Linked DNA regions of Homo sapiens: all the other regions are reported to be linked to region 3. Evidence: microRNA targets listed by miRTarBase, many of them from high-throughput screens and not tested one by one. Region 3 holds a microRNA gene; each other region holds the end of a gene's coding sequence.
Evidence for each region. Region 3 holds the annotated microRNA hsa-miR-4704-3p (UCAGUCACAUAUCUAGUGUCUA, at 4,263-4,284, opposite strand). A microRNA usually pairs through its seed, bases 2 to 8, with sites in the 3' UTR of a target mRNA and lowers its output. Matches are read on the target gene's strand: a 7mer-m8 pairs with bases 2 to 8, a 7mer-A1 pairs with bases 2 to 7 and ends in A, and an 8mer does both.

Region 1 (10,207 bases), not on the chromosome of region 3:
CTTTTCACTTCTGACTGGAAGATAAAATACTGGGCTGATCTTGATGGAAATAATCATTTGGGCATCCCTCTCTCTCACTTGAGCAGCTGTTTTCTAAGTGGTGCTGGTATTCCAGTTAGAAACAACAGAGCATGAACCAGTTTAAGGGTAGCAAATAAGTTTCAACTTGATTGCCAACTCTATTTTATTTCATATCTGGACTGCCAAGTTCATAATTTCTGAAGCTGTGTTTAGGCTTAGCTGGAAAGAGCTGTGATCAATTGATGTCTGCCAGAGGCCTGGCTTAGGGGTGCTGTGGTATGTGTGCCATGCATTTTCCATCTCTGGACCAGGTGCATCTCTAATATCACTTGGGGCTGGTCCCTCTAATTGGCAGACTCAGCAGGCATGACTGGAGAGGGAAGTCCCAATGGTGCTAGAATGGTGCTGCAGTGGCAGAAGACGGCTCACAAGTGAGGTCTGGAAGAACAACAGGGAAGACATCCATCATTTGCTCCAAAGTGTGCAAGTCAAATCCTGGGGAGAATCATGATAACCCTGATCACTGAGCAGCTACAGAAGCAGACTCTGGATGAGCTGAAATGCACACGCTTCAGCATCAGTCTGGTAAAAGACCAGTCTTCCTGCTTCTCCACGACCCCCTCCCCCTTTTTTCTGAGGCTGATTGTTGCTATTACTTTACTCTTGTCCTGTGCTGTATGAATCATGGTACTTAACCTGGAAGAGCCCACTAATGGCTCAAAACCCAGCCCAAAAGGAAGGGGGCAGGGATTTTTCCACCGATAGAGAAGGGACAGCAAAACTTGGGTGGAGAAGGGTTTGAGATGTTGGAAGATGTGGATTGTTTGACTTACTAACTTTGGGAAGACAAGAGGAAGAACACTTAATGTCCCTAACATCCCTGTAGCTCATGAATCGCAGAGGAGAACTGAAGAGGGCTTCCTAGAAATCTGTCAGTGTGTCCTGAATCCAAATCATGATGGATATTCTCTCTTTCTTAGCCTTTGCCTGATCATGCAGACATCTCCAACTGTGGGAACTCTTTCCAGCTTGTGTCTGGTAAGGCATCGTGTGTGTTTGTGTACGTGTGTGTACCCATTCCTCTCTCCACACATTTCTATCATTGGTTTCCAGTGACCAGGGCTAGCGAGCCTACCTCTAGAACCTTCTTGCCAGGGTCAACTTCTGAGATTGACAGTTGTCTTTCATGTTCTAGCATGAAAGTTATCTGGTTGGTTTGCTCTTATTCTAGCTTTGTGGGGACTTGTATAATCTAATTTTTTGAATAGGTAATACATTCACATGGTTCAAAATTTAAAAAATAACAACAAAAAGGTTATGCTGAGAAAAGTCTCTCTTACTCTCCCGTTCCCTATCTACCCAGCTTCTACCACCTCCCTAAAAGTATTAGTTTCTTATACAGTATATGTGACTAGAATTTCTTTATATAAAAAGAAGCAAATGTATATATTTATTTCCTTTCTTTTTTAAGTTCTCGGATACATGTGCAGAACGTGCAGGTTCGTTACATAGGTGTACATGTGCCATGGTGGTTAGCTGCATCTATTTTATTTCCACGTTTTTAACACAAAAGGTTGCATACTATATATTATTTTGTACCTTTAAAAAAAAAAATGGGACCGGGCCTAGTGGGTCACACCTATAATCCCAGCACTTTGGGAGGCCAAGGTGGGCAGATCACCTGAGGTCGGGAGTTCAAGACCAGCCTGACCAACATGGAGAAACCCCATCTCTACTAAAAATATAAAATTAGCCAGGCGTCGTGGCGCATGCCTGTAATCCCAGCTACTCGGGAGGCTGAGGCAGGAGAATCACTTGAACCCAGGAGGTAGAGGTTGCGGTGAGCCAAGATTGCGCCATTGCACTCTAGCCTGGGCAACAAGAGCAAAACTCTGTCTCAAAAAAAAAAAAAAATTGCTGGGCACAGTGGCTCATGCCTGTAATCCTAGCACTTTGGGAGGCCGAGGTGGGCGGATCATGAGGTCAGGAGTTCGAGACCAGCCTGGCCAACACAGTGAAACCCTGTCTCTACTAAAAATACAAAAATTAGCCTGGCATGGTGGTACACACCTGTAATCCCAGCTACTCGGGAGGGCAAGGCAGGAGAATCACTTGAACCCAGGAGGTGGAGGTTGTGGTGAGCCCAGATCATGCCACTGCACTCCAGCCTGCACAACAAAGCAAGACTCCATCTCAAAAAAAAAAAAAACAAAAAACAAAAAAAACTTTAATATAGCTAGGAGATCTTTCCCTATCAGAATGCTGAGTATTCATTCCCTTGTTATATATAGCTACATATTATTACACTGCATAGATGTACAGTGGCTTATTTAATGAGTTTTCTATTGATGTGCATTTAGGTTATTTCTAATCTTGTTTGGATACATAAAACTGTAGTGGGCCAGACGTGGTGACTCATGCCTGTAATCCCAGCACTTTGGGAGGCCGAGGTGGGCAGATAGCATGAAGCCAGGAGTTCGAGACCAGCCTGGCCAGCATGGTGAAACCCCGTCTCTATTAAAAATACAAAAATTAGCTGGGCATGGTGGCAGGCGCCTGTAATCCCAGCTACTCAGGAGGCTGAGGCAGGAGAATCCCTGGAATCCAGGAGGCGGAGGTTGCAGTGAGCCGAGATCGCACCCACTGCACTCCAGCTTGGGCAACAGAGCGAGATTCCATCTCAAAAAAAAAAAAAAGAAAGAAAAAAGAAACTGTAGTGAATAACCTTGTACATATGTCATTTTTTCACATGTGAAAATATATCTGAGGTATAAATTCGTAGATTATTAATTACTGAGTTAAAGGGCCCCTGATCGTAGGGACATTTAGATGGAGGCATCACTGGTGGACAATCAGAACTCCCTAACTCGTGCTGCTCAGCAGTTCTGCATCTCATTTTCTTTTCTGGGATACCTAGCAAGGGAAGTGAGTTGGCAAAAACATGTTCATTCAGTCTCTTCCTCCTGTTTATTAAAGACTTGCTGAAAGCCAGGTATTGTGTCATAAGTATAGAGCAGGAACTCATGGTCCCTGCCCTCATAGTGGTTAGTAGAGGGAAGAACTATAGACCAAATACACTCAGTATGAATTTTGCCACCATCAAGTCTGACTTCGTATACTTGTCGTTTGCCCCAAATATCCAGCCCCTGCAGAATTCCAGCCAGCTAGCCAGAGGAGTTTGGATTAGGCCCTTTGTCCCTTAATGAGCCGTCTCCCAAAAGTCACAATTTTGGTTGGAATACAGTGAGTGAGGATTGTTTCTTTTAGTCCATTTTCCCTTCCTTCTCTTGGTCCCTCCATCTGTTTGGATTTAAGAGAAGGCCTAGGGGAAGGGAATCGGAATATGTGGGTGGCCAGACAGAAACGAAGATGAGCAGCACAAAGTCAGGGTTTCCCAAGCCCAGGTTTCACTGTCAAAGGCCTTCCCCACCCTGTTTGCCCTCCCTAGGAATAAAAGTGATCTCTTACCTGCCTGATTACCTCTTACTTCTTGGCAGTCCTAACTCCTGACTTGGTGCTGTTGACACATGAGAGGAGGAAAGGCCGAGAAAGAAGAGCATAGGCCTGCTTTTCAGCATCCAGGGCAAGCGTGGGGGAGGGGCGAGGGAGAGATGAGCAGGACACTCACAAACGTGTTTGTTTCTCTTGACTTCTTTTACCTTTGAGAGGGAGTGGCAGGCAGTAGATGAAATGTTTTTGATTCCAGGTAGTTGGTCACAATGGAGGCAATAGAGCATAGTGGTTTAAAAACCTAGCCTTCGCATCAGACAGACCTGGATTTGAATCCTCCTTTGGTCTTTTGAGTGCTATGTGATTTTGGGAAAGTTATTGAATTTCTCTTATCTGTGAAATGGGGATAATGATAACGATACTACCTACCTCATAAGGTTTTTGGAAATTTTCACATAAAATGCTCCATACATTATGTGGCAAATGGTAAGTTCTTAAAAAATGTAAGCTATCATTAATATTATTCTTATTATAAATGCCTTCCAGAAGGTGCTTCCTGGAGGGGCCTGCCCCACTGTTCCTGTGCTGAGTTCCAGGACAGCCTCAACTTCAGCTACCATCCCTCAGGCCTGAGCCTGCACCTCAGACCACCCAGTCGGGGAAACTCCCCCAAGGAGCAGCCCTTCTCCCAAGTCCTAAGACCTGAGCCCCCAGATCCAGAGAAGCTTCCTGTGCCCCCTGCCCCTCCATCCAAGAGGCACTGCCGCTCACTCTCAGTGCCCGTGGACCTGTCTCGCTGGCAGCCGGTGTGGCGGCCCGCCCCCTCCAAGCTGTGGACTCCCATAAAGCACCGGGGCAGTGGTGGAGGGGGTGGGCCGCAGGTGCCTCACCAGAGCCCCCCAAAGCGGGTCTCCAGCCTCAGGTTCCTCCAAGCTCCCAGTGCCTCTTCTCAATGTGCCCCAGCTCACAGACCCTACAGCCCTCCTTTCTTCAGCCTGGCCCTGGCCCAAGATTCCTCTCGACCCTGCGCCGCCTCCCCTCAAAGTGGCTCCTGGGAGAGTGATGCTGAGTCCTTGTCACCTTGCCCACCTCAGCGCCGCTTCTCCCTGTCACCCAGTCTGGGCCCGCAGGCAAGCCGCTTCTTGCCCTCTGCCCGGAGCTCTCCCGCATCCTCCCCAGAGCTGCCCTGGCGACCTCGAGGTCTCCGCAACCTTCCCCGAAGCCGCTCACAGCCTTGTGATCTGGATGCCCGCAAAACTGGGGTCAAGCGGCGCCACGAGGAAGACCCCCGGCGTCTGCGGCCTTCGTTGGACTTTGACAAGATGAATCAGGTGGGACCAGCAAGACTAGGGGAGCTTAGATGGGAGTGTGGGGACTGTTCTGTTTCCACTTTTGAGCTAGCCCCTAGCTTCATTACCCTGCCGCCCCCACCACCAACAGCACCTCCTTTAGCTCTTAGCTAGGGTGACCTACCATCCCAGTTTGCCTGGGACTGTCCCAGTGTTAGCACTGAAAGTCCCCCCATCCTGTGAAATGCCTTAATCCTGGGAGTTAGAGAAACTGGGGTGAGACCCATGTTAAACCTTCCAACAGAGATCCCAAATTGTCCTGCAAGAGGTACTTTCCCTCCTTTCCAAGAATGCACAAGCTGCAAAAAATTCCATCAGTACCTACTCCTTGTGCCCAAAGCTGTTTTTGCCACTTGCCTGTCACTGCTTCAAAGTGGGTCTGTGAGGGCTGAAGCAAGATGGGCTGCTACAGTGTATTCATCTGTTAGACAAATGTTTTTTGACTTCCTGGTGTGAGTACAATTATTGTATGTATGCACTTTGCTCACTTTTTTCATATTATTCTTTCTAGACCACTAGGTTACAAACCTCTTTAAGAATTAATTAATTTTTTCATACAGTCGTCCATCCCATCTGCAAACATTTACTGACTCTGACTAGGCACTGGCAGTACAAAGTAATGAAACACTGCAGATGATGTTCCTGCCCTCACGGAGCTTCTATTCTTCAATTCAATGGAAACAATGGGCTCCAAATTTTGTCAGAAAGTTTACAAACGCCAGGCATGGTGGCTAACGCCTGTAATCCCAGCACTTTGGGAGGCCAAGGCAGGCGGATCATGAGGTCAGGAGATTGAGACCATCCTGGCTAACACGGTGAAACCTCGTCTCTACTAAAAATATAAAAAATTAGCCGGGCGTGGGCCGGGCACCTGTAGTCCCAGCTACTGGGGAGGCTGAGGCAGGAGAATGGCGTGAACCCGGGAGGCAGAGCTTGCAGTGAGCCAAGATCACGCCACTGCACTCCAGCCAGGGTGACAGAGTGAGACTCCGTCTCAAAAAAAAAAAGTTTACAAACCTCACCCTAAAGAATTCTTGCCTTCAGGTGTAACTGTCTTCTTTGTTTGTTTGACAGAAACCATACTCAGGAGGTCTTTGTCTCCAAGAAACAGCCCGGGAAGGCAGCAGCATCTCTCCACCATGGTTCATGGCCTGTAGCCCCCCACCCCTCTCTGCTTCCTGCAGCCCCACTGGGGGTTCCTCCCAGGTGCTGAGTGAAAGCGAAGAGGAGGAGGAGGGGGCTGTGCGGTGGGGTCGGCAGGCGCTGAGCAAGCGGACACTGTGCCAGCGGGACTTTGGGGACCTGGACTTGAATTTGATTGAGGAAAACTAAAACTGAGAGGCTACTTCCTGGGGCCACACAGACTGACTCTCTCATGGCTACTAACAAGTGTCGAGTCCCCAAGGCTGGGGGCCGAGCCTGGGAATGGGGGTGAGTGGAGGGCTCCGACTCAGGGCAGCTGGAAATCTTCTCGCTCCAGCAAGCTCGACCATGCCAAGAGACTGGCCGGGACAAGATAAACGGAGCTGGTGGCGGGAGGGACAGCCCCAGAGCAGACCCTTCCTATGGCGGCCCTGAGTGTGAGTATCCCTGCCACCAAGAGAGCAATGGGCAGGGAAGGAAGGGGTCTGCCGACCCCAGCTCGGGGAATTTCACTAGCCCCTTTGCTTCAAAGGGCACTTGTGTCTTAGAATTTGGCCAGGGTGGGGGGTTGAGTCAGCCTCCTCAGAGAAACTGCGTGAGAGTGTGTGCGTGCATGGGAGTGTACTTGTGGAAAGGTGTGTTTGCGTAGCCTTAGGGAAGGAAGGCAATTGCTCCTTAACAGCAGAGTATCATGATACCCCCAGGATCTTGAGTTTTTTACAGGATGTTGGGTTTGCTCAAGGAGTCAAGAGGAGGGCACCAAGTTTTCCTTTTTTCTAAATAGCTCTGGAACCAGGCTTGTAATCCATAGCATCACCGACTCTGCAAAGGATTTCATTTTGGGGTACAGCAGGGTGTTTTAAGTGCTGTGACTTCAGCTAATGATCTTTTCTTCAGCCCCACCCCCTCCCCACTAGCTCGATCTAGTATATTGGGGAATGCAGGTGGGGGGTGTCACCATATTTTTTCTGAGCTGGCCTTTTTTTCTCATCAGATTGTCCAGGCTATATTCCACCTGCCTCTTTTGCCCTCTTGAGTAGAGTTGCACACAGCACATGGGCAACTGAAGCAGGGTTGAGGGGCTCTCTCTCTCTCTCCTCTGCTGATGGGACCCTTTTCCCCTCACCCTCTGCCCTTCTAAGTCATAGACTAGGTAGGAAGGCCCTATATTGGTCCCCAGCATCTACTGAGGCAGACCTGCAACAGAAGTGGCATTCAGTCCCCAGCAGACATGGGTGAGCTCACCCCAGCACTGCTGTTGGGAAGGTGACTGCAGGAAACCAATTCTTACAAGATCCAGGCCCAGCCTTTTTGACCTGCTTGAGAGGGAAGAAGGGGTGTTTAGCATTTAATAGTTTGCTTGTCTTCCACTCCTGCCAGGAAGTGTTTATTTGCCTCTAATTGGGCCTGAGAGACCATAGGGAGGTTGGGGCTCACTGAGGGATTGGCTGAGGATGTATAAAGCAAAGGCTGTGAGAAGCAGTTGGGAGTTTGGTTGTCATTGGATTGAATTTACTTTTTTGTTTCTCACCCGCAACTTGAGCCAGGACAGCTGGTCCAAGTGGCCACAGTGATGGGTTTAAGTACCTTGGTAGGGCTGGCACCAGTGGAAACACATACTGAAGCTGCCACCACAATAGCTTGTGAGGTTTTATCCAGCTGTGGTTAGACCCTGCATGACCAAATTTGACCTGCCCTTGTTTATGGCAAGAAGGGCATTTTTCTCTTCAATTTCCAGGGTTTCCTAGGACCCAGTTCCTCATGTAAGGGAGGAAGACCAAGGTCTTTGTGTTTTCTTCCTCATGGAATTGAACCTGACATTTTCTGGATCTCCTGCATGTCAGGAGCATCAGTGAGGCTTCAGCCTCCTCGTCTCCACTCCAGAGAGGAGGTGGCTATGTCTTCTTAAGCCTCTGGCCCTCAGAGGCTCCTCCCTATCTCCTGGCTAGTTACCACTAGGCTACCAGGTCTCTAGGGGCCTGAGAGAGGCCCTCTAGAGAATCCAGGGAAACTGTGAGCCCAGGAGTTGCCCATCTATGGTTTCATTCCTCCCCTGGCTCTTCTCCCTCTTCAGGCCATAATTTCCCTGGTGCCAATTTCTTTTCCTCCTGGGGCATCCTCATCCCAGGGCTCTCTGCTGTAGATTGGCTGTGCCAGCTTCCAACAGGTTACTGGCAATGCCAGTGAGTTTCTGTAGGCCCTAAGCTGAAGAAGTGAGGCAGTGATTCTGCCTCCATCCTGGTTTCCCCAAAGCCCCAGGGCACCATCCTTAGGGGAGAAGGTCTACAGTTATCATTATTTTAATTCCATTACTTTCAGTCTGGAAAACTAAGCTAGTCAGAACTGTCATCTTGCTTCCCAATCTAAGAACCTGTGGCCCTGGAACACTTTTCAAGAATTGGTTCATTTTGCTTTACACAGTAGATCTGTTCCAACAGTTCTGTGTAAACCAAATGCTATTTTTCAATGCATTTGGACTGCTGACCATTTAAAAGCAGCCTATGATTGCTTCTTTTTGTAAAGCAAGCAACCTCCCTCCACTTTAGCTGTTTTGACTATTTGAATTTTCACATATTGGGCTTACCCAGAGTGGAGCACACCTCCAGGGCATGTGGCTGACACTGGGTCAATGTCTGCATCTGTGCTGTGTGTGTAGTGTGGTTGGCCAGTAGGTGAGTATCCCTGTGTGTGTGAGTGAAGCCACTCCCCAGGCTGGTGCTCTCCTCCTGTGCCCAGTGACTGCCCAGTGGCAGCTCAGCTGCCCTTCACTCCCACCTGCTGCCAAAGTCCCTGTGCTAATGGGATTACAAATACAAAAAGTGGAAAAAAATTTTCGTAAACTTTGTTTTATATTAAAAGAAAAATCCATAAGTCTGTGTGTGTTAAACATGAGGTTCTGCCTCTGTGGCTGTGTTTGAAAAAATAAAGTTTTATTAGAATAATCCATTTTCCCAAGCAACCTTGTGTACTACAGTGTCTTCTTCCCTTCCCCACAAAGACAAGGAAGAAGCAGGGTAGAAGGCCACCTAACTGTTCCAGCCCCTTCATCTAAGATGTGGGTCAACCTTTCAAAAAGGGGCAGTATTTGGACCCTAGGCCCTTTGCCGGCCATGGCAGGATGTTATACTGTGGCCCAGGCTTCTGCTAAGGCCTTGGTTATTTTTGGCAGTCTGGTTTGGTCTCTCTTTCCCTGGCAGTTATACTTGTCTCCTCCTGCCTGCTGTCACTCTCACTTCCAGCAAGTTGAAGTCAAGTATGAATGCATTCCAGCTCCCTGAGAAATGGTTTATGGTACAGTCAGGAACTTGTCTAGATTGGTTTGTAGGCTTTGGGAAGTAGGGAGAAGGCAGGGTGGGAGACAGCCAGGGATCTTTCTTAAGTTTTCACATGTTACATCCTGGAGAGATAGAGGTTTAGTCATCAGAATTCAGATTCCATAGACCTAGGCAATTTTTCCATCCTAAAAATACTGCTTTTGGAAAATAATCCTAGCTGCAAAGCTTCTCTTTTGTTGTAGAAGACAGTATTTTCCCTAATGTTTCCTTTGGGAGTGTTGGTTTGCCAAAAGAAGCTATGTGGCTCACTCTTTAGACCTTTCTGTTCCACCCTTTCTTCTCTCTATGTTGACATTCTTCCAATGTGTGTGGGTGAAGTGTAGTTGCTTAGAGATCCAGGCAGGAGCCTCTGTCTCTAAGGCTTAGCCTTTCTTTACCAGTTGTGGTGCTAATTTGCCAGGCAGCAAGAAGAGTCAAGTTGCTTAGCTTATGTCCTGGTTTCCTGCTTCAAATTGGTGGCACTCATCATTGAATACCAATGAAGTGTGTGCAGGACAGGACTGACTTGACTACCTGGAGCAGGAATCTTTGCAGGGGTGCACATACACCCTAGAAAAAGTGAGGGTTGTCACCTGCCCTGGAAACAAAGGAAGGGCTTTGGGGAAGTGGTGGGCAGTGGCATGTGGTTAAAGAAGCTTAGAATTACAGGGTTTTTTTTCTTTAAAACTGATGTTTCATTTCACCTACTGCTTGAGCAGGGGTAAAGTTTGAACATCTAAAATGACTTTGTTTCCCCCTTTTTTTCTTTTGAGTTTATTTTTGTTGGATTTTTCTGCTATTTTCTGTGAGGCCAAGTGTGATTTTATTTTTCATTCCTGAAGTCTTGTTAATATAGGAAAGAACGTAAACTCCATGAGGGCAAGAGTTTTGTTTTATTCAATATTGTGTCCCCAACACTTTGGGAAGTTC
Region 2 (10,466 bases), not on the chromosome of region 3:
ACTGGGAGGCAGAAGTTGCAGTGAGCCGAGATTGCACCACTGCACTCCAGCCTGGGTGAAAAGAGCAAAACTCCATCTCAAAAAAAAAAAAAAAGTTACAGTTTAATGGTATTAAATTCCCCTAATGATGTTGTATAACCACAACAATCATCCGTCTCCAGCACTCTTTTCACCCGTAAAACTTCATCTCTATATCCATTAAGCATTAAACACTAACTCCTCATCCCCTGGCACCCACCCCTCTATTGTCTGTCTCTATAGATTTGACAACTCTAGGCACCTCAAATAAATGGAATTCTGTGGTATTTGCCTTTCTGTCACTGGCTTATTTCACTGAGCCTAATGTCCTCAAGTTTCATCCATGTTGTAGCATGTTGTACCATTTCCTTCTTTTTTAAGGCTGAATAATATTCCACTTTTTGTATACACAGCATTTTGCTTAGTCATTCATCTGTCAGTGGATACTTGAGTTGTCTCCACTTTGCAGGTATTGAGGATAATGCTGGCATGAACGTGAGTGTCCAAATATCTCTTCAAGACCCCGCTTTTAATTATTTCATATATATACCCAGAAGTGAAATTGTTGCATTATATGGAAATTCTATTTTTAACTTTTTGAAGAACCTCCATACTGTTTTCCACAGCAACTATACCGTTCTACATTCCCAAAGCACACAAGGGTTCTGATTTCTCCACATCCTTGCCAACATTTATTTGTGTGAGTGTGCATGTGTTACAGTAGCCATCCTAACGGATGTGAGGTGGTAGTTTGGATTTGCATTTCTCTAATGATTAGTGATGAGCACCTTTACATGTGTTTGTCCTTTGTATATCTTCTTCAGAGAAATGTCTATTCACGTCCTTTGCCCATTTTTGAATCACGTTGTTTCTTTGTTCTTGAGTTTTAGGAGTTCTAAATATTCTGGATATTAATCACTTATCAGACGTGATTTGTAAATATTTTCTGTTCTGTGAATTGCCTTCTTACTCTGTTGACAGTATTTTTTTTTAATTATTATTTGTAGAGATGGGGTCTCCCTATGTTGCCTAGGCTTGTCTCCATTTCCTGGACTCAAGGGATCTTCCCACTTTGGCCTCCCCAAGTGCTGGGATTACAGGCATGGGCCACTGCACCTGGCTTATTGACAGTATCTTTTGATGAACCACATTTCAAATTTTTCATGAAGTCCAATTTGTCTATTTTTTTCCTTTGTTGCCTGTGCCTTTGGTGTCATATCCAAGTAATCACTGCCACATCCAGTGCTGTGAAGCTCTTGCCCTATGTTTTCTTCTAGGAATTTGTTTTAGGTCTTAGATCCAGTTTGATTTTTGTATATAGTGTTACGTAAGGGTCAAATTCTGTTCTTTTGCATGTGGATATCCAGTTTTCCCAGCACCATTTGTTGAAAACACTGTCCTTTCCCCACTGAACGGTCTTGGCACCCTTGTCAAAAATCATTTGACCATAGGCCAGGCATGGTGGTTCACGCCTGTAATCCCAGTACTTTGGGAGGCCAAGGCAAGTGGCCACTTGAGGTCAGGAGTTCGAGACCAGCCTGGCCAACATGGCAAAACCCCATCTCTACTAAAAATACAAAAAGAATTAGCCAGGTGTTCTGGTGCACACCTGTAATCCCAGCTACTCAGAAGGCTGAGGCAGGAGAATCGCTTGAACCCAGGGAGTGGAGGTTGCGGTGAGCTGCACTGCACTCCAGCCTGGGCAACAGAGGGATATGTCTCAAAAAAAAATCATTTGACCATAAATGCCAGGGTTTATTCCTGGGCTTCTATTCTATTCCACTGGTTTATATGTCTCTCTTTATGCCAGTACCATAATGTTTTGACTACTGTAGCTTTGTAGTAAATTTTGAAATAAGGAAGTATGCGTTCTCTAGCTTTGTTCTTTTTCAAGATTGTTTGTCTATTTACGGTCCCTTGAGGTTCTCTATTAATTTTAGAATAGATTTTTCTATTTCTGCAAGAACATATCATTGGGATTTGGATAGGGATTACATTGAATCTGTAGATGCTTTGTGTAGTATTAACATTTTAGCAATGTTATGTCTTCCAATTCATATACAGGGAATGTGTTTCCATATCTTAATGTTTTCTTTAATTTCTTTCAGCCGTGTCTCGTAGTTTCTATTGTACACACCTTTCACTTCTTTGGTTAATTCCTAAGTATTTTATTCTTTTTATGCTATTGTAAAACGGATTATTTTTATAATTTCCTTTTTTAGATTCTTCATTGGTATCATATAGAAACACCACTGATGTGTGTGCATGTGTGTTCTGAGCAGGGTCTCACAATATTGCCCAGGCTGGAGTGCAGGATGTGATCATAGCTGACTGCAGCCTCAACCTCCCAGGCTCAAGTGACCCTCCTTCCTCAGCTTCCCAAAGTGCTGGGATTAGAGGTGTGAGCCACCGCACTCAGCTGATTTGTGTGTGTTGACTTTGTATCCTGCTACTTTGCTGAATTCATTTATTAGTTCTAATAGTTTGTGTGTGTGTGTGTGTGTGTGTGTGTGTGTGTGTGTGGACACTTTAGGGCTTTCTACATTTTCAAATCATATTATCTGCAAACAGAGATAATTTTACTTCTTCATTTCCAAATTGAATGCCCTGTATTTCTTTTTCTTCTTAATTTCTCTGGCTAGAACTTTTAGTGCTCTGAATAGAAGTGGCGAAAGAGGGCATCCCTGCCCTGTTCTTGCTCTTAGAGGATAATCTTTGTCTTTCACTAATGAGTAAAATGTTTGCTGTGGGTTTTTACGTATGGCTTTTACGTTGACGTAGTTTCCTTCTGTTCCTAGTTCGTTTGTGTGTGTGTTTTTTTTTTTTTTTTTGACAGGGTCTTGCTCTGTCACGCAGGCTGGAGTGCAGTGGCATGATCACAGCTCACTGCTGCCTTGACCTCCCTGGCTCAAGCAATCCTCCCACCTCAGCCTCCCGAGTAGGTGGGACCACAGGTACGCACAACCACGCCTGGCTAATTAAAAAAAAATTGTTTTGGCAGAGACAGGGTCTTGCCACATTCCCCAGGCTGGTCTTGGACTCCTGGGCTCAAGTAATCTAGTTGTAAAAAGTTTAAAGCTGGTTTTTAAAAAGCCCAACTTTCATCATTGGCAGGATGTGCGTTCTGATAAAATTACTCTTACAGCTAGAAACAAGACCCTTTCCTTGCATTTCTAATTGTTTTGTTCCACTGCGGTATTTATAGTTTGATGAAGAGCATCTTACCCCTGCACAGTGCTTTTAAACTCTGCTGTGCCTGATATGAATACTCTTATTTTCTGCTTGTACCCTATTTTTCTATCCACTTATTTTCAGCCTGTCACTTTTATGATTATTACATCAACAGCATATTCCTGGGTTCTAGTTTCAACCCCAATCTGACCACCTGTCTTCTAAAGAGAAAAAACAGATTTAGTGTAACAATGTATTTCTTGGTTTGTTTAGGAAAGGACACCAAGGTTCAGAAACAAGTGAGAATTAGGACTTGAAAGACAAATGGGCGGGGGGAACTTCTTAGTTTGTCTTTTGAATTTTTATTACTTTTTCAGAGATGAGGTCTCACTGTGTTGCCCCGGCTGGTCTCAAACTCCTGGGCTCAAGCAATCCTCCCGTCTTGGCCTCCCAAAGCACTGGGATTACAGGCGTGAGCCACCCTGCCCAGCCTAGAAAGCATTTTTGACTGAACCAAAAATGCAAATCCTCACCAAAATCTCTCAGTGAAGTCACTAAGCTCCCATTAGAGTGGAGTGTGGAGAGGCCAAGGGCACTCACCTAGTGCCAAGATCCCACAGAGAAACATGAGGCCAGGGCATGGGCACCTCCTCCCAACAGGACCCCGTGACTGGGCCTTTGAACCATTAGATGCAGCCCTGGAGCCGCGGTCAGAGCGTGGCTGTCCCCGAGAAGGGAAGCAGCAGCCGGCACGGCCTGTTCTCCCATCTTCACATCACTCCCTCCATACAAACCACTGCTTCCCACCGCCTCCTGTGACAATGCCTGGCGAGGTGGTCATGCCCCCTTCAGCCCTCCTGAAGTGCCCTCTGGGAAATAAGGCACGACGGACAAATGGATTCAACATCCTTTTCTTTTTAAAACTAAACCTTGCTTGAGGGGCATGGTTTGGATGAGTTCTCTGACTTCATCCCTGGATTAGACAAATGTCCCCCCCTGGTCACGGGCAGAGGACTCCATGAGACGTGTCTAACCCAGGGATGCAGACTTCTCCCTTCGGCAGGACAGAGTCTACTGTGTGGAAGAGGACGATCCGGAACGTGTCCTCTCCATGGGCGGGCAAATCCAGGCTGGAGCCCAGAGCATGCCCTGCTCCTCGGTCTCTCCTCCTTGGCGGGGTAGGAAAGGCAGTCCCGGGGCCACGGTGCATGCCATGGGGGGTGTTCTCCCTCACAATGCTTTCTATGCTGCACTTTTAACTTCTCCTTTTCCTTAGTTCTAAAAGATTAAGGTGCAAATCACATACAATCAAATGCATAGGTCTTAAGTGTAGGTTTTGATGAGTTTGGACACATGTATACGTTCACATAACCACCATCACCAACAAGCTGCGGAAGACTTCCCTCACCCCAGAAGGTGTCCCTGTGCTCTTTTCAGCCAATCCTTCTCTCTTCCCTGCCAGGAGAAAACACTATTCGAATTTCTCCCATCAATTCGTTTGGTCGGTTTTAGAGCTTCGTATAGATGCTTACATATCTTACTTCTTTTGCTTAACGCATTTATTTATTTATGAGACAGGTTCTCACTCTTGTCACCCAGGCTGGAGTGCAGTGGCACGATCTCAGCTCACGGCAACCTCCACCTCCCGGATTCAAGTGATTCTCGTGCCTCATCCTCCTGAGTAGCTAGGATTACAGGTGTGCACCGCCACTCTGGGCTAATTTTTGTTAAAATTTTAGTAGGGACGGGTTTTCGCCATGTTGACCAGGCTAGTCTTCAACTCCTGGCCTCAGGTGATCTGCCTGCCTTGACTTCCCAAAGTGCTGGGATTACAGGCGTGAGCCACTGTGTCCAGCCTTCAACGTTTTTGAGACGTATACACATGGCTGCATTCATCACGGTTCACCCCCGTTGGTTACTAAGTAGAAGTCCATCGTATGACTACACCAGAATCTGCTTATCCACCCTCCTGTTGTTAGACATATTACGAATAAAGTGACAATAAATATCCTTGTACAAATCACCTGTGGACATGTATTTGCACTGAGTATCTAGGAGAGTCTGCAGGAGTATGTCTAATTTTTTAAAACCTCCAAACCAAAAAAAGAATTTGCCCACTAGTTTCCTAAACTGGAAGTATTATTTTAGACAGTAATAGGTGAGTTCTAGCAGCTGCACATTCTCCTATCTGGTGATGTCTTTTTCATTTGAACACTAATAGATGGAAAATGGGACCTTTTTGTGATTCTAACTTGCCCTCCCCAGGAAGTGATGATGTTAAACAACTTTTCATGTTCTTATTGGCCACTCATGTATACACAGGTCCCTGACTTAAGACGGTTCAATTTCAGGTTTTTGGACTTTACGATGGCGTTTCGGAAGCATTAAGCTCTCAGCAGAAGCCACACTCTGAATTCCGATCTTTTCCTGGGCTGGTGATGGATGCGCAGCACAGTGCCCTCCTGCAGTACTGAGCGGTGGCAGGGAGCAGCAGTCCCAGCCAGCTGTGCCATCGCGAGGGGAAGTGGCCGGCATGGATCGTTAAGTCAGGGAACATCTGTCCCTTCTTCGTGAATATCTGTGTTCAAGTCTCTTGCTCATTTGTTAAATTGGGCTTTTCATCTTAATTTTGGTTTGCAGTTTTCTCCCCTATATCCGAGGTCTGAGTCCTTTGTCAGGACACACAGTGTGATTTCTTGCCTGGCATTCCGTTCCTTGCTTGTCCATTTTCAAGAGCAGAACATTTTCACGTTGATGGAAGCCCGATGTCTTTCTTCTACGGTATGTGCTCTGCATCCAAAGCAGCCTTCGCCCATCCCACATTTTAGATAATTTTTTCTTCTAAAAACTTCACTGTTTAAGCGCTCATGTTTGGATCTGCAATCTATTTTGGATGAATTCTTGTGTATGACGTGCAGTAGGAATAAAGGCTCATGTCTTTCCATACGGATAGCCAGTTTTATTCACAGACACAGGTGGTGGCCAGACCTGGCACACGGATGCAGCTGACCCTGGAAGCTGAAGGGCAGTGAAACCCATCTGATTAAGATGCTCAACTTTTCTGAAGGTAAAGGTTTTAAATAATAGGTGGGATTGAAGTGGAAATTTAGAAAGGCTAGCAGGTGACATTATGGGGTTAAGTGAGTAAAAGTTAGCTAATGTTTGTTAAACATTTACCGTAAGTAAAAAGCTATTCAAGTCTTTGAACTTGTTCCTATTGTTTCCCCACCCAACAGAAAAAGCTGACACCAAGACCTGCCTAAGGTCACACCATCATGAGTGGCTGAGTTGGGCTGTGATGAGCCACCCGGCTGGAGAGCTTGTGCCCTGGTTACACGATTGCCAGTGAGATGCCTATGGACTCGCATGTAGAGGTGGGTACCCAGACAGCTCAGAGTGAGCTGCCTGCGGGCCCAGCATGCAGAGGTGTGTACTCAGTGCTGTGTGAGATGCCTGTGGGCCCAGGCACGGAGGGATGCATGCGTGCCCAGAAAGCAAAAGGCTGTGCAGAGGACCTGCTAGGAGGTAATGACTAGAGAACATGTTTTTAAGCAAACAGGTGAAGGGAAAATGCAAAATAAGGAGCTACATAAGCATCACATCTTAAGAATCATTATGGAGCACCTAACTGTGACTTGTTGGGCTGGGAGCCAAACAACATAGGTGGGACACGCTGCACATAAAAGTAACAAGCTGGAGGTCCAGAGGAACCCTTGGAGCCGTCCCAAGACTGAGAGCCGGTGTCAGGCACCACCTCTTCTGGGCACCTGGGCTATGGCAGTGGGGAGGATGAGCCCCTGATCCCAGAGGCCACTCTCTCACACAGTGCAGTGCAGTCTTTCTCACACAGGACCTAGTGTAACACGGGACCTAATGGCAGGACACATCAACCCATTAAAAATCCAAGCAAGGTACAAGAGATTTCTAGAAACAAAGAATCAGGCTTTATTTTTGTTATTTTGAATACAGGTATTGTATTGTAGACATCTGTTAGTCTCATAATTCAGTATGGCCAACACACAGAAATTAAAAGTAGAAACAAAATGAGGGCACACTTGCTCCTGTCCTTGGCTTGGCCCCTCCAACCTCCAAAAGAACTGTCCTCCCCATTGTCATATCCTTTCCCTGCTACGAAAGACAAAACAAAATGATGCCCCAAAGAAAAGTCCCAGAGGCTCTCTCCCAGCAGTCAGTGGGATGAAGCAAGACACTGTTACCTTGGGTAGGATGGAGAAGCCACCAGGTCCATACCACAGAGGCCACAGTGGGATGGAGAAGCCACCAGGTCCATACCACGGAGGCCACGTGTGCCACCAGTGGAGCCAAACCCTGGCCATGGCTGGCAAAACTCACCACCAGGCGAGACCAGAGCATATTATCTACCAGTAATCCCCGAGGTCCAACGCCATTCAAGTCAGGCAGCCCTGAGGCAAGCAGGAGGAGCCCTGTCCTCTGGGGGTGCTGCTTCCAGAGGAGGCCCAAGGACAGTCTCTTCAGAGAGGGGCTCACCCGGGAAAGGGGGTTCCTGAGGAGGCGTGCAAAGGTCAAGGGACCCACCCTTGCCACCTGTCCCAGGGCTTACTGCTGACTCCACTGTCCTGGGAGTGCTGGAATCTCCACACCACTTAAAATGAAAAAGGAAATCAGAAATAATAAGGCATTAGACGTTTGATTCTTTTATTTCCATATGCAATGTAATGTTTAGGCACGCTGCTTGGGATGCTACTTCTAAAAAAATTGTTGGCCATTTTTCAGAATATCCTTTTGGTTTTAAATACTGGTCAGGAAAAACAAATGATGTAAAAATACGTGAATAATTTTCTATTACAGAAATGAAAAACTGATTTGCATCTAAAAGTGCAAGAGGTGAAGTAATTTAACCCTTTCACCAGACGATATGGCAATATACAATATATTGCTTGAGCTGTTTGAGAAGGCTGTGATGTATTTTTGTATTGACATAGAAAATTATAAATTACATTGAATTAGTATCCATAATCACTATATATATACACAAACCAGTTCTAAAAAAATACACTGGTTTAAATTTATGAGTGAAAACCTCACAAGGTACAGTAAACAATTAGCATGCTTCGGTGCCAGATTTTGATTTCTACTTTTAAAATACTAGCCTGTAAAATGAACGCACTCTAATTCCATTAGCAGCACGAGCATTTTCAACTGACTTGCCTAATAGGATTTATTTTAGGTCTGTTAAATATGCAGATTGCTCTGAAATGTTCATTGGTGATGCTTGTTAACAAGGTAAATTTTGGTGAATGGGTTAAAAGGCAGATGAACTACCAAATGAAACAAAAAAACAAACAAAAACAAAAGCCAAAAAAAAAAAAAAAAAATCCCAAAACACAAGCCATATACACTCCAAATAGTCTAGTGTTTCACTTGTAGGAATAATCATTTCAAGCAAACAAGACTTGAACAGAACATATGGCTTTACGATAACATCAATTTATCAACTATGATGTAGCAATAAATACTTTACTTAATCTCTACCAATAGACTTACATTTTTGATCCGTTTTAAACAATACAGAAAACAATTACCAATCAAAAACTGGTTATAAAAAGAACACCAAATATTTCTTATTCAAAATCACTTTTGTAAGTTAGAACAACCAAAATAACACTTAGAGGGCATTTTCATTCTACAACTCCTTGTCGGCCTGGAGGAAAAATGAATTCATAATTTTGTACAAGGTGAAAAATGTATGAAAACCGCCTAATACTTTGGTCACACTAATAATTGTCAAAGTTATGTTTCAAATACAATAGATCTGTGTATTCACTTTTATAAAACTATTCTTACAGCCATTTTAACTATAGTATTACTACTATTATTACATGGGTGGCAAGATCTTATTTCACAGGCTACCCATTATTTAGAACAATACAATATAAACATACGCAAAAATTCTTGGTATTTGTCAATGTGCAATATTTTTACACTTCTGAATTTCTCTGTACAATGTCTTAGAATCTAGAATATAAAGGTTGCTGGTCCTGATCCCTTGCAGAGTGAGTGCAGCAGTGACAGCTTGGTGGGCTCCAGCTGACCCCTCCAGAGCCCCTGAGTGGTGGCGGTCTGCAGTCCTCAGTCAGCAGCAGCAGACGTCACCCGTCATACAGGGCCATTCACTGAAGTGTCACCTGGTGCGCTTGGTTGGCCAGTCCTAAGGAGCAACAGACAGGCATCGGAGGCACTTGCAGCAGAAATATGAAAAACAAAACCTACTTAGCTGAGCTCCCCAAGGGCAGGGACAACTTATTTTAACATTGTTTTGAACTTAGTAAGTTTTTAATAAAATGATATGTAAATGAATGGAGCAAAAGCTCTAGAAAAATCTGAGTGAGTGCATCTAAGCTTCATCACCGGGTGAGCAGGCATTCAGCAAGGGCAGCAGCAGAGCAAATGCTCTGGGAGAACCGCCCCACCGCGGCCTCCAAGAAGCACAGGGAGTGACTAGGTCAGTGGGGTATAAACTGTGGCTTCCAGAGCCTTCAGGAGCTATGTGTTCACCGCTCCTTCAAGAAAGCTTTTATGTGACCCACAGATTGGAATCCACATACTATTTCACTTGGAAACAGGATTCTGCTACTAGGAAAGGGGGGAAAAAAGGAAAGGAAAGGAGGTTTGCAAATAAACTACTGGAAAAAAAAAAAAAGGTGTCCACTTGAAGAACATGTCCCACAAAGCAAATGTTAGGCTCAAAACTGGGAGGGAATAACAGGTGGGACAGTATATAACAAAGTGTCCAGGTTTTGCCTTCCTGCCAAAATTACAACCTGAATATATAACCTATTCGGGAAGGCTTGACCAAAATTGTATCAAGCAGACTTGGGAAAGGGTGCTTAGGGCCGTAACTGGGATGCCCACAAGCACTTTTCCACTAGCATTCACAATTTACAGCTAGAATGCTACTCATGCCTTATACCTGCTGGTTATACAGTGAGCCAAAAAGTCAGCTCTGCACACACAATCCACTCTGCTCACTTACTTACATCTGATGGTGGCTCCGTGTATGAGAGACATAGGAATCGAGACTTCTGGAACTAGACATAACTGGTATATAACTAACTTGCCTTCACTTAAACAAGCTGAGTGATCTTATAAGTAGATTTCTTAGCCCCTCTCAGTTCTGTTTTCTCCTCTGTAAAATGGGAAAAGAACCCTCCCCACGCCCCACAGGGCTTCACTAGTATACATATGAAATAAGTACATAATGTGTGCAGCATGCTCAGCACATCAGAAGCACAAAG
Region 3 (10,466 bases):
ATAACTAAAGACAGGGACTATGATTTGTAGCAGGGACTGGGAAAGAATTTGCATGAATCGGATTCCTGTTCTTGGCAATTTTAACTAAGAATATTAGAATGAATTTGTCAGTTGGTAGAGAAACAGAAAAGGAAAATAGAATGACAACCAAAATACAAAACAAAACCCAGAACACAACCCAGCCTTCTGTTAATTATCTGAGTCGTACTTAAGGGGAGGACACTAGAGTGAAAGTCGCCACATATTGCTAAGGTCCCCAGGGCTTCCTTGAGTCTAGAAACCTTTCACAACTTGGTCTTGAGTAAGCCCAACCTTGTGAACATTTAGTTCTTAAATGAGTGTGGATTGCTTCTTAATATCTCTAACAACATACTATTTTAATTTGATCTATTTTTGATGACTGTTTTATCCTTACAGCGAAATTATCCAAATTAAGATAAATGACTTATCTAATATTGTATTCTAATATCTAGCAAAATGCCTTGCATAAAATAGGCAATCAAATACTTAAAAAGAAAATATCTATACTAAAACCTTTGTTTTGTGAGTTTTAAATTGTCAATACGTTCTTTCATATATATGTATATTGAAGAAAAATAAATTTTATGAAATAGAGAGGAATCTTAAAATCCATTAAGGTAAAGATTTTGTCTTTTCAAAATGTCTCCAAGTCATATAATTTTTCCCTACATATGAATTGACCTAAAAACTACTTTTTTTTTTTTACTCTTTTAAAATACATACCATAAATTGCCCTTAGACAACATTAGTATTCCTGTTTGAGTTGATAAAAACCTTTGTAGTTCACTGCCATCTTCATTATGCATGAAATGTGACTATATGGAATATACCGTGACTCTAGGAGCAATAATGTATTACCTTGAGGCTTACATAGATCAAAATCTGATGGCTAGATTGAGAGATAGGATAAAATGGAGGTTGAACAAAATTATTTTTAGTTGCGGTTTCTTGACTTGACAGAATAAAGTTTTATGACTATTTGGTCTATTTTATAGTGAGTACCATGAATCAGTCAAGAAGGTTGATGACCAACTTACAACACTACTGGCTCTAATAATGTGTATTCATCTCTTCATTTTCCATGATAATATTTTGTCATTTTAAAATTCCATTTTTATTAGAGTCCACCTAAGCATATTTTTTTATCACCACAATACTTCCCACAATGTCTTGTTCGAAACTTATCTCTGATATATATAGTTCATTAAATGATTCATATTTCAGTCCTGGTAATAGCCCAGGGAATGTAAATCTTGAATGAAATAATTTACAGAGAAAATTATAAAACTCATTATGCACGAAGAATGAGAACTATGTTTACATAGATTTACTTTTTATTCCTAACTGAGGGTGGCTTTCTACCAATGTTAATTATCCCTTTTGGTTTTTAATTGAATTCCTAAGTTTTAGATTGGCACAAGACTACTCGGCAAATTACTGCATTCCCCAGCTTCATTTGAAGCTCTCTGTGAGTGGAGATAATGTGAGTGGAGATAATACTTTTATGTAGCTCTTTTAAGAGGGGATTTTGCCCTTTCCTCCCCAACTGAGATATAGGAATGATTGCAAGAGCTCAAGCAACTTCTGTAATCCAGAAGCTAGAAACTGCATACTGAGGATGACAGGGCTGTCCTATGAGCCATATCTGGCTGAAACATACCATCAAAGAGAGATATATGACATTTCAAAGCTTCTATAGTTTTTGGTCTTTTTGTTGTAGCAGCTCAGACTGTACTCTAACAGTACAGTAACATTTTAAAATTCAATTTCCATTTTATGCCTCCATTATTTCCTCATGTTCATTCCTTTTAAAGAGGCTATTCCCATTTGTTCAGCTGAGAAAGCCTTAATTCTTATTCTTTTTTGATGTGATACTTGTCTTGCTTCATCCACTGTGGGCTCTCTTCTATGTTTCGTAAGCACTATGGTCATCCAACTTTCTGTCGTTATTTATGGGCATTTAAAAATCAGCTATAGCCCTTTTAATTTGCACCTTGATGGAAGTAAGGAAATGTAATTCATTTCTATATTTCCATCCTCAGCCCTTAGCACATTGCTTGGCACATGCTATGATTCAAGAACTGTGTTTTGGATGCATGAACACAGAGAAACCTCCAAAAAGGGAATCTAAACCAGAGAAAAGCAGCCTGGGGACCTTGGGTTGGGGAGAGAGGAGCTACCTCACTGCTGGGCTTCCCTAAGGACTGAAGAATAAGGGAGAACACCAGAAACTGAATGCTTGATTGTTATGCATCTGTGCCTCAGGGTGGGTTTTTTTTTCCCTTAATTTTAATTTTAATTTTTTAGTGCCAGCTGGCAGAGGCCACTCTTCCCCTACCAGCTGCCTGCCTGAGGTGCTGGCCAGCTGCCGGCAGCTGTGCTATGGAAAGAGAGCCCACCAGTACCCAAGACAGACCACTGAATATCCCTTCTGTAAGCTTCCTTGATAACTCCCCTTTCTTAACATCTAACCCTGCGAGTTGTTATCCTTTGAACAGACAACTTTCTTCAAGGATTGAAGTGGATGTAGCTCTCTAAAAAAAGGCTTAGTGGATATCAACTTTATTTTCATGACCTTGTTTATATATTCTAGTCACACTACATATTTTTGTTTGTGACTGTCATGTGTGGAAAGGTGTTCCAGGACCTAAATATCATAACAAAAATAGGCATCTCAGTTGAGTGACTGCTTCTTTTCTCATTGCTTTTCCTGGTAAGTGAGATTGTTCAAGAAATTCTTCTCCCTCTTTTTTGGCTTCGGGTTTGTATTCTTGTTCCTATCAGTAGTGACCATAAGTTGTCACCTAATGGAATTAGTTCAGTGACCCTTACAAACTAAATTAACACTCTATCTCCAGTTTCTACTGGATATGTGTCTAAATCACAGTTGGGCACCTTGTTAGCTGCCTCAGTTAAGAGTTCAGTGAAAGAATAAGCCATCCTCCCCTTTCATCCCTAGGGGCTGTCTCTTAGTGTACTAGAGGCTCATTAGCAGCCTTGTAACACTGAGATTGCCCACAGTATACTTATTCTAACAGGTTTTCTTACTTTGAGACATGGTAAATGTCTATTGCAAATCCTGTTGACATTTAATTTTCAAATTATCTTCTGTATTTGTTTGCAATTTACTCATAATATATGCATAATTCCAATCTGTTGAAATATTGATTCTGATTTACGATTTAGTAAATTAAGGAATGGTTGGGTTGCATATTAAACTTTGGAAGTGACTCACAATATATTACATTTATATTACCCTTTAGAGTTGCACAAAGTCCTTCCATAAATACTGTCTATGAGCATAATGGGGAAAAGAATCATGTTTAATTTATCTTTAAATCCTTAGGGATATAACCCAATGCTAGCACATGAAAGACACATAATACAGGGTTTTTAGTGAACAACCAATCAAAGAGGATGATAGATGTGATAGTCTTAAAATCTACCCACAAATTAGTTGATACTTCTTGTATTTGTTTTCTATTGATGCTGTGATAAATGACCACCAAGTAAATGGCTTAAAGCAACACAAATTTAATATCTCACATTTCCTGAATTTAGAAGTCCAAAATGGATCAAAAATCAAATAAGGGCTCCAGCCTTCCAGAGGCTTGAGTTGAGAATCTGTTTCCTTGCCTTTTCCAGCTTCTAGAGGCTGCCTTGCCTGGGCTTGGCCTCACTCTGACCTCAGCTTTTGTCATCTCATCTCCTTCTCTGACTCTGACTCTCCTGCTCTCTCTTATTAGAACCTTTTGTGATTACATTAAGCCTGCCTGGATTATCCAGGATAATCTCTCCATCTCAAGATCCTTAACTTAATCATATCTGCAAAGTTTCCTTTGCCATGTAAAGCATAGCATAGATCTCTGAGATTAGAAAGTGGCATCTTTTGTGGGGGGTGGGAGGCATTATTTAGCCTACCACACTCAAGATGTTAGTCTAACTCCCCTCCTCTTGAATATGGACTGACCTTAGTGAATTGTCTAAGGAATAGAGTACAATTTAGTGACACTACAGGACTTTTCAGGTTAGGTTATTTGAGTCAATACAGTTTCTACCTGGCTCTTTTTGTCTTGGGTTTTGAAACCCTAAGCTACAATATAAGAAGTCTGGTTTCATTGAAGTTACTATGTGTTAGAGAGGCCAGCTGGAGATCACATATACACATGGTGAGATCACACAGAGAGATGATCAAGAGACAAGAGGTGTTCTAGCCCCCAGATGTTTGAGTCTTCTCATTCTAGACACTAGATATGTGACTGATTGAGTGAGGAAGACAATCACTCACATGCCTAGTGTCTAGGATAAGAAGATTCATCCTTAAGATGACTCCAGTCCCAGCCACCAACTGACTACAACCATAGAAAAGACTCGAGAAAGACTGCTGCCCGAGGCTTGGCAGAAAAAAATGTGTGAATGAAATCAATTAAAGGTATTGTTTTAAGCTACTGTTTTAGGGTAATTTACTATGGAGCAAGAGATAATCAGAAAAAATATAAAATATTTTTCCAACTTTAAAGATAAGAAAACAGAAGTTTAAAGATGTCAGCATATAGAAACATTCATGAAGCAAACCCAAATTAGAGAAGAATTAGAGTAACATCGAAAGTACTGAACAGGATCCTGGCCAGATCTCTGAAGTCCAGGTTCTAACGTTTGCTTGTGTGACTTTAAGTATGAGTCTTAATATCTCTGTGTCTCAATCTCCTTATCTGCCTTATCTGTAGAATGATAATAATAATAGTACCTACTTCATAGGTATATTCTGACTATTAAATGGTATAATGTAGATAAACATAAAAGAGTACCTGAAATTATTAATGCCACCAAATTATAAGCTATTTTTTAGTGTTTCATTATCAATTTAGTGCCTTTCTCAGGCTTACCAGTTTCCTTCCAAATAGCACTAAACTCAACTCATGAATGTTCAAGAATATTTTATGAAGATGTCCCAGTTGTCTGGGTTCTACCTCTATTGTCCCATTCAGAAATTTGAAGGGGGGTGGGAAACTTCCCAAATGAATGGCATCTCTGTCTGGAAGCAACTCTAATTCGAATATTTATTGGGCATAATTTGGAGATTCAAAAGCTTATTACTAATGTCCTACACTTTTTCTAAACCAATAGAGAGACTATTTCTTATGGAAAACCCTCTTGTCAGCGAACCAATTCTCAATTACCATTGAACTTTCTCCCACCATCTGCATATCTTCAAATATCTGTTAACTCCTTCCATTTGTCTTCTTACCTTCTACAGTTAAGTTATTTATCTATGATCAAGAAAAAGCATGTAACCAGGTTGCTGGCAGTAAAGGATCTATGGAATCCTATTTCCCCACTGCCCTAAACATTTATCAGCAAACCTCTTACATATCCCCAGTTGGTTTTACCTCCTATCACACTTAGCTCTTATTTCAATAATTGTAGTTTCTTAAAATCCCCAACTGCTCCAGCACTTTTCTTTTCGTCTAATAAATGGTACCAACATCTAAGTCACAGAAAAATATAAAATCCATGTACTCTTACATGGTCTTTTTTTTCCTCACTGAGAAACTCTCGTGTGTCACGTCAGGCAGTCATTGTTGGCAGACACATTCAATATTTAATCCCAGCCAATATCTTCTCAGGCAGTCGTGACAAACTCATGTCTCTCTAGGGATTTTAACTACATTTAAGAGAAGTTTAATTTTCTCCTTGTGGTTTAACCCATCGTTAGAACTCCTCCAAAAAGGGCCGCAGTTACAGAAAGAAAAAAATAGGCATCAGTCCAAGATTTCTTCATTTTTGTTTTTCTTTTGCTTTTCTTCTGAGTTTGCAATCTCATTACCTCTGCACCCATCAACACACACTCTTCACAGTCACAGCTCCACTTTGTTTGGAGCTCAAGACTCTGACCTGTTTCAAAGCAATAACCTATTTGTGCACAGAATGAAAATCATATTAGTGAGGTTGGGTGTTTTTCTTCTTAGGTACTTCTTTCTGTGTTCCAGAGTCTGATAAATCATTTCTTCTGACACTAAACTCTTTAGTGAGAATTTTTTAAATAACCAGTTGACCCTGGATTTTCTCGTGTACTCTCTAACTTGAACCACACATTCTACTATCAAGACAAATCCAAGTTGGTAGCCAACACATCTTCCTGAGAATTTGAGCTAGTTAAGTTAAGAACAAATGAATGTTTTCTTGATTCTTGGTATTAGTAAGAATGGAAACCTGAAGTTGATAAAGTTTTTGATTGAGAAAAGTAGTGTAATGAGGTTTTGCTTTTACCCTATTTCTCCTAAGTGAAGAACGACAAGGCATTGACAGTGAAATTAGTCTCTTCATTTATTGATTTGGCTCTTAAAAAGAAAGAGATTTTAGAGATGTCAAATAGTAAAATCAAAAAGGGATGTGTAAAGAAGTTTTTAGAGAAGCAGAATGGATGCAGATATTCAATGACTGCTTGAGACCTAACGAGAAATATTGGCTGGTTGTGGTGCCATATGCTCATCATCTCAGCCCTTTGAGAGACTGAGCTGGGAGAATTGCTTGAGGCCAGGAGTTCAATCCCAGCAATATAGCAAGACTTGATGGTACATACCTGTAGTTCCAGCTGCTTGGCTGGATGAGGTGGAAGGATCATTTGAGCACAGGAGGTCTATGCTGCAGTGAGCTCTGATGATGCCATTGCACTCGTCTGAGTGATAGAACAATATCTGGCCTAAAAAGAAGAGAGAAGAGAAGAGAAGAGAAGAGAAGAGAAGAGAAGAGAAAAAAGAAAAGAAAAGAAAAGAAAAGAAAAGAAAAGAAAAGAAAAGAAAAGAAAAGAAAAAGAAATCCAGCCATGAAGAGGGTCCCTGTGGTGTAGGTAGCTAAGAAAATTTTTAACAGTCATACTGAATATTTAAGTGATTTCTTTTTTATGTTGTTTTGTGATTGTTGTTATTTATCAAACATAGCAGTGAAAAGTTCGTATTAAAGCAGAGTATCCCAAATTTGGTAATCTGAAATCTGGAATGCTCCAAAATCTGAAACATTTTGAGGACCAACCTGATGCTTAAAGAAAATCGTCTTTCAAATTTGGGATGTATGGCCCAGCAGGGTGGCTCATGCCTGTAATTCCAGCATTTTGGGAGGTCGAGGCAGGTGAATCCCTTGAGGTTAGGAGTTTGAGACCAGCCTGGCCAACATGGCGAAATTCCATTTTTACTAAAAGTAGAAAAAATTAGCTAGGCATGGTGATGCATGCCTGTAATCCCAGCTACTCGGGAGGCTGAGGCAGGAGACTCACTTGAACCCAGGAGGCAGAGGTTGTACTGAGCTGAGACTGTGCCACTGAACTCCAGCCTGGGCAAGACAGCAAGACTCCATCTAAAAAACAAAAAACAAAAAAGAGCTACTTAACCAGTAATAGTAATGCAAATATTCCAAAATCTGAGAAAATCTTAAATCTAAAACACTTCTGGTCCCAAGTTTTTGCATAAGAGATAGTCAACTTGTACCACAAACCTTGTTGGTGGAGCTTTGGGAAACGGGAAGAAAGGTCAAAGCATTCAGAAGTGGCCAAGTGACAGAGGAAGGGCAGCCACTATAGAAAGTAAAACAAGTGCAAATCAATAATGTATTTGAAACAAAAATTTGGTAGAAAAACATGAGAGTAACTTCTTTAGAAGCCTAACAACATTTATGAAATTCTTTGACTTTTATAATTACATGGAATGGGCCTCTAGCAACTTTCTTTGGATATTAAAGGGAATGTTAACCAAGAAGTGTAGAATAATTTGCTTGTTATTACAAATTTTTATTTCAGTTTAGATGTAGCTCCAAAGCTTAACAGCCATCTAAAATAAAAAAAGTTCTCAATCTGAGTTCAATGTGTTCTCTCATAATTACTCATTTTCTCCAGTATTTCTTGTTAATCAATAGCACCTGCACACACCTGGAAGTCATCTTTCATTTTCCTTTTTCACTTCCTACATTAGGGCATCAGGCTGTATAGGTTCTAATTTTTTAAAATTTTTATGGATTTAGGGAGTATAGTGCATTTTTGTTCCATAGATATAGTAGTGAAGTCTTGGCTTTTAGCATAACTATCACCCTAACAGTGTGCATTGCACCCAATAGGTAATTTCACATACCACACCCACCTCCCACACTCCCACCTTTTGAAGACTCCAATGTTTATTTTTCCACGAACTATATCCATATGTACAGTGTATATTGCATATATATATATATATATATATATCTTTGTGTGAGTATGTGTGTATGTACGTGTGTGTATAACATTCTCTTTATTCAATTATCCACTGATGGACATTTAAGTCGATTCTATAATTTTGCTATTGTAAATAGTGATGCTATAAATACATGAATACAGTTGTCTTTTTGATATGATACTTTATTTTCCTTTGTGTATAAACTCAATAGTAGGATTGCTGGATCAAATGGTAGCTCTATTTTTAATTATTTGAGAAATATCCATACTATTTTCAATAGAGGGTGTACTAATTTACATTCCCAACAACTGTGTATAGGCATTCCCTTTTCTTTGCATCCTCACCAACATCCGTTGTTTTTTGACTTTTTAATAATAGCCATTCTGACTGCTGTAAGAGGATATCGCACTGTGATTTTAATTTGCATTTCTCTGATGATTAGTGATGTTGAGCCTGTTTTCATGTTTGTTGGCTGCTTGTATGTCTTCTTTTGAGAAAAAAATGTTCATATCCTCTGCCCACTGTTTAATGGGGTAATTTTTTTTCTTGTTGAGGTGTTTGAGTTCCTTCTAGATTCTAGATATTAGCCCTGTGATGGATGTATAGTTTGCAAGTATTTTCTCCCTTTATGCAGATTTTCTGTTTACTCTGATGATTACATTTTTGCTGTGCAGAAGGTTTTTAGTTTAATTAAGTCTCATTTGTCTATTTTTGTTTTTGTTGCGTTTGAGAACTTAGTCATAAATTTTTTGCCTAGACCAATGTCCAGAAGAGTTTTTCCTAGGTATTCTTCTAATCTGTTTTATAATGTCAGGTTTTATGTTTAAGTCTTTAATACATCTTGAGTTAATTTTTGTATATGGTAACAGGTTTCATTCTTCTACATATGGCTATCCAATTTCCCCAGGACCATTTATTAATTGGATCTCTGTTCCTCAGTGTATATTTTTGTCAACTTTGTCAAAGATCAGTTGGTGGTAGGTGTGTAGCTTTATTTCTGGAATCTCTATTCTGTTCCATTGATCTGTGTCTGTTTTGATATGAGTACCACACTGTTTTGGTTGCTGTAGTCTCATAGTATAACTTGAAGTCTGGTATATGATACCTCCAGCTTTGTTCTTTTGGTTAAGATTTTGCTTTGGCTGTTTGGGCTGTTTTTGTTTCCTATGAATTTTAGGATTTTTTTTTCCGAATTTTGTGAATATAATGTCAATACTCAGATAGGAATTACATTGAATCTGTAGATTGCTTTGGGCAGTATGGTCATTTTAACAATATTGATTCTTCTAATCCATGAGCATGGGATGTTTTTTCATTTGTGTATGTCATCTACAATTTCTTTCAGCAGTATTTTGTAGTTCTTGTAGAGATCTGTTACCTTCTTGTTTAATTGCATTCCTAGTTTTTAATTTTTTCATAGCTATGGTAAATGGGATTGAATTCTTTATTTGGTTCTCAGCTTGACTCTTATTGATATATAAAAATGGTACTGATTTTTGTATGTTGATTTTGTATCCTGAAACTTTACTGAAGTCATTTACCAAATCTAGAGGTCTTTTGTAGAGAACCTTATGGTTTTCTAGTTATAAAATCATATCTTCAGCAAACAGAGCTAACTTCACTTCCTCTTTTCAAATTTGGATACCTTTTACTTCTTTTGCCTGATTGCTCTAGCTGGGACTTCCAGTACTAAGTTGAATAGAAGTAGACAGGCACCCAGAATGGTGCCATGCTGCAGTTGTCCAGTGCTAGGAAGCCAGTCGGACTTTACATGAGTTAGAGCAGTGTCTCTCTGTGATCTCCAGGCAGCTTCCTATGCCAAGTAGAGGCCTGTGAGGGTTGAGGGGCTCTCTTGTAGCTGGATTGTAAAGGTCTGTGGCAGAAATGTGGAGCCCTGGAGGTCTTTCACTTATCCCTTCCCTGGGCTAGGGAGCAGCTCCAGGCCCCAGCAATCCTGACTGAGCAACCCTGCTTCCCCCTCCTTCACGCTTTGTATTTTTTATTGCCTCTCTGTTGAATCCCAGTGTTCTCTCTCAGATGAGCTATTCAAAGTCTTTCATTTATCCCTTCCCTGGGCTAGGGAGCAGTTCCAGGCCCCAGCAACCCTGACTGAGCAACCCTGCTTCCCCCTCCTTCAAACTTTGTATTTTTTATTGCCTCTCTGTTGAATCCCAGTGTTCTCTCTCAGATGATCTATTCAAAGTGTGAATATCTACTAAATATTTTGGTTCTTCTCTGTGGAAG

Region 1: the mRNA of FAM53C is a reported target of hsa-miR-4704-3p. Seed matches in the 3' UTR shown: 7mer-m8 at 7,230-7,236 and 7mer-m8 at 8,699-8,705.
Region 2: miRTarBase lists PPP6R3 as a target of hsa-miR-4704-3p. Seed matches in the 3' UTR shown: 7mer-A1 at 9,301-9,307.

Annotation. Positions count from the first base shown.
Region 1 is chr5:138,340,808-138,351,014 of GRCh38, forward strand. It overlaps FAM53C (family with sequence similarity 53 member C), which reads left to right. Exons shown (of 5, transcript NM_016605.3): 2 at 377-606; 3 at 1,002-1,059; 4 at 4,018-4,802; 5 at 5,895-8,922. The coding sequence starts at 529. The coding sequence ends at 6,152. Among named protein-coding and RNA genes, the nearest start is that of KDM3B, 6.8 kb to the right of the region's middle.
Region 2 is chr11:68,611,979-68,622,444 of GRCh38, reverse strand. It overlaps PPP6R3 (protein phosphatase 6 regulatory subunit 3), which reads right to left. Exons shown (of 24, transcript NM_001164161.2): 24 at 7,111-9,379. The coding sequence ends at 9,328. Among named protein-coding and RNA genes, the nearest start is that of GAL, 67 kb to the left of the region's middle.
Region 3 is chr13:66,212,114-66,222,579 of GRCh38, reverse strand. It overlaps MIR4704 (microRNA 4704), which reads right to left and starts at 4,330; the gene lies at 4,256-4,330.